Regions from separate parts of the Homo sapiens genome. Here regions 1 and 2 are each linked to region 3. Evidence: fine-mapped expression QTL. A gene starts in region 3. Each other region holds a variant in brackets. All regions are shown on one strand. Distances are between the middles of the regions.

The links. PIP is the estimated chance that this variant, and not a neighbour inherited with it, causes the effect.
Region 1: its variant is fine-mapped to the expression of TMEM231 in whole blood (TOPMed, PIP above 0.99).
Region 2: its variant is fine-mapped to the expression of TMEM231 in iPS cells (PhLiPS, PIP 0.95).

Annotation. Positions count from the first base shown.
Region 1 is chr16:75,718,671-75,721,430 of GRCh38, reverse strand. The region is part of intron 1 of CPHXL (cytoplasmic polyadenylated homeobox like); the gene reads left to right. Among named protein-coding and RNA genes, the nearest start is that of CPHXL, 6.4 kb to the left of the region's middle. The variant C/T (reference allele first, on the strand shown) is at 1,140.
Region 2 is chr16:75,529,782-75,532,541 of GRCh38, reverse strand. CHST5 (carbohydrate sulfotransferase 5) reads left to right here. Exons shown (of 4, transcript NM_024533.5): 4 at 902-2,760. The coding sequence starts at 2,158. Among named protein-coding and RNA genes, the nearest start is that of CHST5, 4.9 kb to the left of the region's middle. The variant T/G (reference allele first, on the strand shown) is at 1,198.
Region 3 is chr16:75,555,182-75,557,941 of GRCh38, reverse strand. It overlaps TMEM231 (transmembrane protein 231), which reads left to right and starts at 1,690. Exons shown (of 7, transcript NM_001077418.3): 1 at 1,690-1,871; 2 at 1,969-2,138. The coding sequence starts at 1,733. RefSeq lists enhancers at 1,260-1,369, 1,400-1,479 and silencers at 1,520-1,629, 1,920-1,999.

The DNA.
Region 1 (2,760 bases), 160 kb before region 3:
TGTTTTCCATTTGCTTGGTAGAACTTCCTCCATCCCTTTATTTTGAGCCTATGTGTGTCTCTGCACGTGAGATGTGTTTCCTGAATACAGCACACTGATGGGTCTTGACTCTTTATCCAATTTGCCAGTGTGTGTCTTTTAATTGGAGCATTTAGCCCATTTACATTTAAGGTTAATATTGTTATGTGTGAATTTGATCCTGTCATTATGATGTTAGCTGGTTATTTTGCCCCTTAGTTCATGCAGTTTCTTCCTAGCCTCGATGGTCTTAACAATTGAGCATGTTTTTGCAGTGGCTGGTACCAGTTTTTCCTTTCCATGTTAAGTGCTTCCTTCAGGAGCTCTTTTAGGGCAGGCCTGGTGGTGACAAAATCTCTCAGCATTTGCTTGTCTGTAGAGGATTTTATTTCTCCTTCACTTATGAAGCTTAGTTTGGCTGGATATGAAATTCTGGTTGAAAATTCTTTTCTTTAAGAATATTGAATATTGGCCCCCACTCTCTTCTGGCTTGTAGAGTTTCTGCTGAGAGATCCGCTGTTAGTCTGATAGGCTTCCCTTTGTGGGTAACCCGACCTTTCTCTCTGGCTGCCCTTCCCATTTTTTCCTTCATTTCAACTTTGGTGAATCTGACAATTATGTGTCTTGGAGTTGCTCTTCTTGAGGAGTATCTTTGTGGTGTTCTCTGTATTTCCTGAATGTGAATGTTGGCCTGCCTTGCTAGATTGGGGAAGTTCTCCTGGATAATATCCTGCAGAGTGTTTTCCAACTTGGTTCCATTCTCTCTGTGACTTTCAGGTCCACCAATCAGACGTAGATTTGGTCTTTTCACATAGTCCCATATTTCTTGGAGGCTTTGTTTGTTTCTTTTTATTCTTTTTTCTCTAAACTTCTCTTCTTGCTTCATTGCATTCCTTTGATCTTCCATCACTGATGCCCTTTCTTCCAGTTGATCGAATCGGCTACTGAGGCTTGTGCATTCGTCATGTAGTTCTCGTGCCGTGGTTTTCAGCTCCATCAGGTCCTTTAACGACTTCCCTGCTTTGGTTATTCTACTTAGCCATTCATCTAATTTTTTTTCAAGGTTTTTAACTTCTTTGCCATGGGTTCAAACTTCCTCCTTTAGCTCGGAGTAGTTTGAT[C/T]GTCTGAAGCCTTCTTCTCTCAACTCGTCAAAGTCATTCTCCATCCAGCTTTGTTCAATTGCTGGTGAGGAGCTGCGTTCCTTTGGAGGAGGAGAGGCACTCTGATTTTTAGAGTTTCCGGTTTTTCTGTTCTGTTTTTTCCCCATCTTTGTGGTTTTGTCTACCTTTGGTCTTTGATGATGGTGACATACAGATGGGGTTTTAGTGTGGATGTCCTTTCTGTTTGTTAGTTTTCCTTCTAACAGTCAGGACCCTCAGCTACAGGTCTGTTGGAGTTTGCCGGAGGTCCACTCCAGACCCTGTTTGACTGGGTATCAGCAGCAGAGGCTGCAGAACAGCAGATATTGGTGAGCAGCAAATGTTGCTGCCTGATCGTTCCTCTAGAAGTTTTGTCTCGGAGGAGTACCCGGCCGTGTGAGGTGTCAGTCTGCCCCTACTGGGGGGTGTCTCCCAGTTAGGCTACTCAGGGGTCAGGGACCCACTTGAGGAGGCAGTCTGTCCGTTCTCAGATCTCCAGCTGCGTGCTGGGAGAACCGCTACTCTCTTCAAAGCTGTCAGACAGGGACATTTAAGTCTGAAGATGATTCTGCTGCCTTTTATTTGGCTGTTCCCTGCCCCCGGAGGTGGAGTCTAGAGAGGCAGGCAGGCCTCCTTGAGCTGCAGTGGGCTCCACCCAGTTTGAGCTTCCTGGCAGCTTTTTTTACCTAAGCAAGCCTGGGTAATGACAGGCGCCCCTCCTCCAGGCTCGCTGCCACCCTGCAGTTTGATCTCACACTGCTGTGCTAGCAGTGAGCGAGGCTCCATGGGCGTAGGACCCTCTGAGCCAGGCGCAGCATATAATCTCCTGGTGTGCCGTTTGCTAAGACCATTGGAAAAGCGCAGTATTAGGGTGGGAGTGACCTGATTTTCCTGGTGCCGTCTGTCACCCCTTTCTTTCACTAGGAAAGGGAATTCCCTGACCCCTTGCACTTCCCAAGTGAGGCGATGCCTCACCCTGCTTCGGCTCATGCTCGGTGCCCTGCACCCACTCTCCTGTACCCACTTCCCAACACTCCCCAGTGAGATGAACCCAGTACCTCAGTTGGAAATGGAGAAATCACCTGTCTTCTGTGTTGCTCACGCTGGGAGCTGTAGACTGTAGCTGTTCCTATTTGGCCATCTTGGCTCAAAAGAAATATTTAATTGAAATATAGCATGCATGCCAAAAATAGCAAATATTTATACATGTTTAATTTAACTAATGTTCACAAATCAACTACACTCGTGGAACTCAGCACTCAGATAAAGAAAACTTAGTGGCACCCAGAGGCCTCTGTTCGCTCACTTTCAGGCTCCCGATTCCATTCCCTCAGTAGCCCATGTCCTGCCTTCCAATCAGTATAGATCAGTTTTTCCTGTTTTACCTTACGGTGATGAAATAATAAAATATTCTTCTGCAATTAGTTCTAATTTTAAATATAAATTCTCAAATCCAGATAGTAAATATGTTAGGCTGTGTCGACCCTAGACACATTGGAGCCTCAACTACTAAGCCTGCTGTTGTGGCTTGAAAACAGCCATAGGCAATGCATAAGTGAATGAATGTGATGGTGTTTCGATAAAACTCTATTTACAAAAACAG
Region 2 (2,760 bases), 25 kb after region 3:
GAAGGAGCAGAGGTGAGATCTGCTCACAAGTTAGACCCTGGCTTCTCTCAGTGGGCAGTGTGGACAGGGGAAGGGGGCAGGCAAGGAGCAAAGGATGCAGGAGCAAGGAGAAAACTTCCAGGCTCCTCCCTTCCAAAGTCACCCAGCCTTGAGATCATTGCAGATGCAACAGGTGCAAACAGAAGAACACTTTAGGACCTTGGAATGCGGGAGGCTGGCTCAGTGTTCCTTCCACCCTGTGAGAAATGCGTGACATTCTTAAGGTCCACTAAAGGCTCAGGGTGGTTGGACGCCAGAGGATGGCCTGGGAGATACAGGGATTGGAAGGGTAGGTGGCCTGTGGGTGTCTCCTCTGTGGGGAGACTCACCAGGTGGAGGGGGTTCTTTCTCTCCAGATGTAGCTCAGCACAGGGACAGTAACAGTAACAGGGGCATGTGTGTAAGGAATGCTTCCCCAGGCCCTCCCCTCATAGGTGTTTGCAGCAGCATCCATCACAACAGCTCTAAGAGGTTAAATATTGCAAATCCCATTCTACAGAGGTGCAAATTGAGCCTCAGAGAAGTTAAGTCACTTGCCCCAGGTCTCATAGCTCCCCATTGGCAGTGCTGGGATTTGGAGCCAGCTCTCTCGCTTCCATCCATCAGGAGACCCCGCCAGTTCCCAGCCATTTGGAGAAATGCCCTACTCAGACTTATTCAACCTCAGCAAGCCTGGTGGTGGTGTGACATCCGCCTAAACCGTCATCAAGCCCTTTAGCTCCACAACCCAAAAGGGTCTCTCTACGAGTTATCCTGAAGCAAAAGGCAGGCAGGACAGCTCTGTTCCCACCCTGGGGAGCTTTCTATGTACAGGGCTGTCTCTCTGTAGGGCTCTGATCTCCTCTCCTTCCTGCTTTGCCAGATGTCGAGACATCTCCCATGGATTTGTGATCAGCGTTGCAGCTCTCCCAGCAGCCCTGGACGGTGGTGAGTCCCCTCAGCTGGCCAGGACAGTACTCTGCTCTCACCTCTCTGCTTCTTGGGCTCCATCCCAGCTCCCCATCAACTGATCTTCTTGCAAACCCACAGGGCTCCAGGACACCCTCCTTCTGGAGCCCATGCTGCCTACAGCACTTCACTCCCCACCAGTGATGACAACAGTTGCTGTTCTTTGTCCACTTTATTTACTTGTTTATCTTTAATGACAAAAGTTTTTTT[T/G]TTGTTGTTTTTTTTTTTTTTTTTGAAACGGAGTCTCACTCTTCACTCAGGCTGCAGTGCAGTGGCGCAATCTCAGCTCACTGCCACCTCTGCCTCCCAGGTTCACGCCATTCTCCTGCCTCAGCCTCCCGAGTAGCTGGGACTACAGGCGCCCACCATCACGCCTGGCTAATTTTTTGTATTTTTAGTAGAGATGGGGTCTCACTGTGTTAGCCAGGATGGTCTCGATCTCCTGACCTCGTGATCCGCCCGCCTCGGCCTCCCATAATGCTGGGATTACAGGCGTGAGCCACCGCGCCTGGCTGACAAAAGTTTTATACCTGCCTGTTAAAAAAATTATATAATACAGAAGCACACCTTGTAAAAGGTGCAATCCTCAGTTATGGGCATGACTGCGTGTTCCCTTCCCCCATCTTCATTATAATAACCCCCCAATCCCCCCAGATCCTGTGAGCCAGGTACCGGAATTATCCCTCTTTCACACACGGGTAAAGTGATCCGTCACAGAGAGATTTAAGTGATCTTCATAAGCAAGATCATAGGCTAGGAAGTGGCAGAGCCAGGATTCAACCTCGGCGAGCCTGGTGGTGCTCTGACATCCACCGAAGCCCCCATCAAGCCCTTTTAGCTCCACAACCTAAAAGGGTCTCTCTAAGAGGTATCCTGAAGCAAAAGACAGGAGTTCTCTTTGAAACATAGTATTTCTCTCTACAGATAGATAGCCTGTAGGTATGTAAGTAGGTGGGTGGGTGGGTAGGTAGACAGTTTGATGATATCCCACATTATTCTGCAACTGGACTTCTGCTGTGAGCACAGACTATATTCTGGCCTATGTCTTGACTCCGTATTCCTGGGAAAGTGCTCGACTGAGACCTTGGGAGTCTTGGGAAGTCCAATGGGTAGGGTAGCCGAATCTGAGGGCTGATCCCTGAGGGCACTGGGCAGTAATTGGGGCATGGGATGGGCATGAGGGCCCGGGTCCCTAAAGTTGCCCACTCCACCCGAAGGCCCCCAGCCGCCCGCATGTGGCTGCCACGGTTCTCCAGCAAGACAGTGACAGTGCTCCTCCTGGCACAGACCACCTGCCTCCTGCTCTTCATCATCTCCCGGCCAGGGCCCTCATCCCCAGCCGGCGGCGAGGATCGTGTGCACGTGCTGGTGCTGTCCTCGTGGCGCTCGGGCTCATCCTTCTTGGGCCAGCTCTTCAGCCAGCACCCCGACGTCTTCTACCTGATGGAGCCCGCGTGGCATGTGTGGACCACCCTGTCGCAGGGCAGCGCGGCAACGCTGCACATGGCCGTGCGCGACCTGATGCGCTCTATCTTTTTGTGCGACATGGACGTGTTTGATGCCTACATGCCACAGAGCCGAAACCTGTCCGCCTTTTTCAACTGGGCAACGAGCCGCGCGCTGTGCTCGCCGCCCGCCTGCAGCGCCTTTCCCCGAGGCACCATCAGCAAGCAGGACGTATGCAAGACACTGTGCACGCGGCAGCCATTCAGCCTGGCCCGGGAGGCCTGCCGCTCCTACAGCCACGTGGTGCTCAAGGAGGTGCGCTTCTTC
Region 3 (2,760 bases):
AGCCTCCTGGGCTCAAGCCTTCCTCCTGCCCAGGCCTCCCGAGTAGCTGGACCTACAGGCATGAGCCACTGTGCTCAGCCACTCAGGACCTTTTTGTTGTTGTTGTTGTTGTTTGAGATGGAGTCTCGCTGCCACCCAGGCTGGAGTCCAATGTGTGATCTCCGCTCACTGTAATCTGTGCCTCCCGGGTTCAAGCGATTCTCCTGCCTCAGCCTCCAGAGTAGCTGGGATTACAGGTGCCCATCACCATGCCTGGCTAATTTTTGTATTTTTAGTAGAGATGAGGGTTCACCATGTTGGCCAGGCTGGTCTTGAACCCCTGACCTCAGGTGATCCGCCCACCTTGGCCTCCCAAAGTGTTGGGATTACAGGCGTGAGCCACCGTGCCCAGCCATTCAGGGCCATTTGATGAAGAAATTGGCTGTGGACCATAGATTTTTTTAAAAAGTCCTTCTACCATGTTAGAAATATTGGTTGGGGGTGGTGGCGGGGGGGTGTAGGCATTCAATTAAGCAATAAGCCAGTGATCTTTGGGGAGGACCATATATTCCTGTAAAACTCGCGGCTGAGCTGTACCCAACACAGGGTTAACGAAGTGCATCAGAGCTTTGTAGTAATTCCACTCTATCCGTGGAAGAGCCAGGGGATTTGTGTTTCCGTGTCTGTCTTGCATGGGAGCATAGTGGAAGCAACAGAAAATCTGGGGGCAAAAGCACCTGGCTTTGATCTCAGCCCAGGACCAGGTCCAGGACCACGGCCAGGCTTGTGACTGACTGGACTTCAGTAGGAACCACACTGGGGGTTAACAGATGACACAAAAGCAGGTGTTCGTTCTGTGCGGGAGACGCGCTAGGGGAGAAGAAAAGGCACACACACAGTACCTTTAAGGGTAAGCAAGCTTTATCCCACGTAAATGGCAATGCAGATATTATAATAAGCAAATTAATATAATAAGCAGATTGATATAATAAGCAAATTGCAATGGGAAGAGGAGAAGGAAAAAGACATATATATATATATATTTACACTCACCAGACTATGGAGGATTCACCTCCAGACTGGGAAGCAACGACCTGGGCTCCAGAGCCGGCCACTCGTCAGTGCACAGACGAGGAGAGGTCTCATGAAGCTTTTTGGCGTGGTCTGGGACCCTAGATCTTTTTGTAACATGTTGTCTAGCATGAGGCCCAGTCACGAGGGCCCTTTGCGACTGGGCTCAAGGAACACAAAAAGGTCAACTTGTTTTTGCGATTGTTGTTTTTCAATAACTGACGTATAGGAGTAGACTGAAATAGAGATTTCTCCGAAACAGCGCTGGATGAACGCCTCAAGGGGCTCCCACAACCTGTTTAGGGACTTGGTGACCATTGTTTGTGTCCATGTCAGTTGAAATTTAAATATTTAGTTCTTCCTCCTCAGTGTTCAAGTCAACTTTTATGGGCATCTTATTTTACACAAATGTTAACACAGACAACAGCCACGACTCTGGTCCACGGAAACGTTCTATCGCCGCCCAGCCTTTACGCAAACGTACACAGCTCGAAAAGCTAGGCCGACCGTCCCCGGCAGCGCCACGCCCGCTAACCCCGCCCCCGCCACTGGCTCCTTTCGGTGCGGCCTTGCTATTGGCTCCTTTCTGTGAGCCGTCGGTTGCCGTGGAGACCGAGGCGATGGCAACCAGGAGAAGCCAAACTTGGTCCCCCGGCTCGCGGAGTGCCTGCGAGCGGTGCTCATGGCGCTCTATGAGCTCTTCTCTCACCCGGTCGAGCGCAGTTACCGCGCGGGGCTCTGCTCCAAAGCCGCGCTGTTCCTGCTGCTGGCCGCTGCGCTCACGTACATCCCGCCGCTGCTGGTGGCCTTCCGGAGCCACGGTGAGCCTGCCCCGGCCGCTGTGCCACGAGGCTCCCCGGGCGCGCTCGGCCAGGGCCGGCCTCCCTAACCGCCTCCCTACCGCCCTCTTTAACTCAGGGTTTTGGCTGAAGCGGAGCAGCTACGAGGAGCAGCCGACCGTGCGCTTCCAACACCAGGTGCTGCTCGTGGCCCTGCTCGGACCCGAAAGCGACGGGTTCCTCGCCTGGAGCACGTTCCCCGCCTTCAACCGGCTGCAAGGGGATCGCCTGCGCGTCCCGCTCGTTTCGGTGCGTGGTTCCCGCCTGGGCCTGGGGCAGAGTCGGGGATAGGGTGGGGATGGGGACTGGAATGAGGATGTGGGGCGAGCGGCCCCGGCCCTGGGGAGCCCAGCTTTGATCCTAAGGACTCGCGAACCCGCAAAGGTGGCGTTTCATCTCCTAGGACCTAGGGAATCGATCTTCTGTTTCATTCTGCTTCTCCCAGATGTCCCCGGCCCCCAGAAAGTTAGCCATGCTGTCAGCGTGTGCGCCCTGACACAGAGTCCAGAAGTGTGGGGGCAGCCTGTGTCTGCCCGGGTCACACCCGCGGGCCTGGCCTGATGGAGGGTGTTTGTGAAAGTCCATTTAGGAGCCTGGAAGGCCGCGCGCTGTTAATGTAGATAACCCCATTCTGTCGCGGCGTTTCTGCATCACACCACTATAGGAACGGAAAGGGCAGCATTTTTATGCAGACCTGACCCCTGGAAACCAAGGCGCTGATTGGTTAAGCGGCCTTCCCAGAACGCGCTGTGGCCGAGTCACGCCTCCCTGGGTTTGTCCCATTGGAGACTGCGCCATCCTGAAGCTGTCGGGATGAAATGGAAGCATGTTACTGTCTGTAATTTATTTATTTATTTTTAAATTTTTTCAC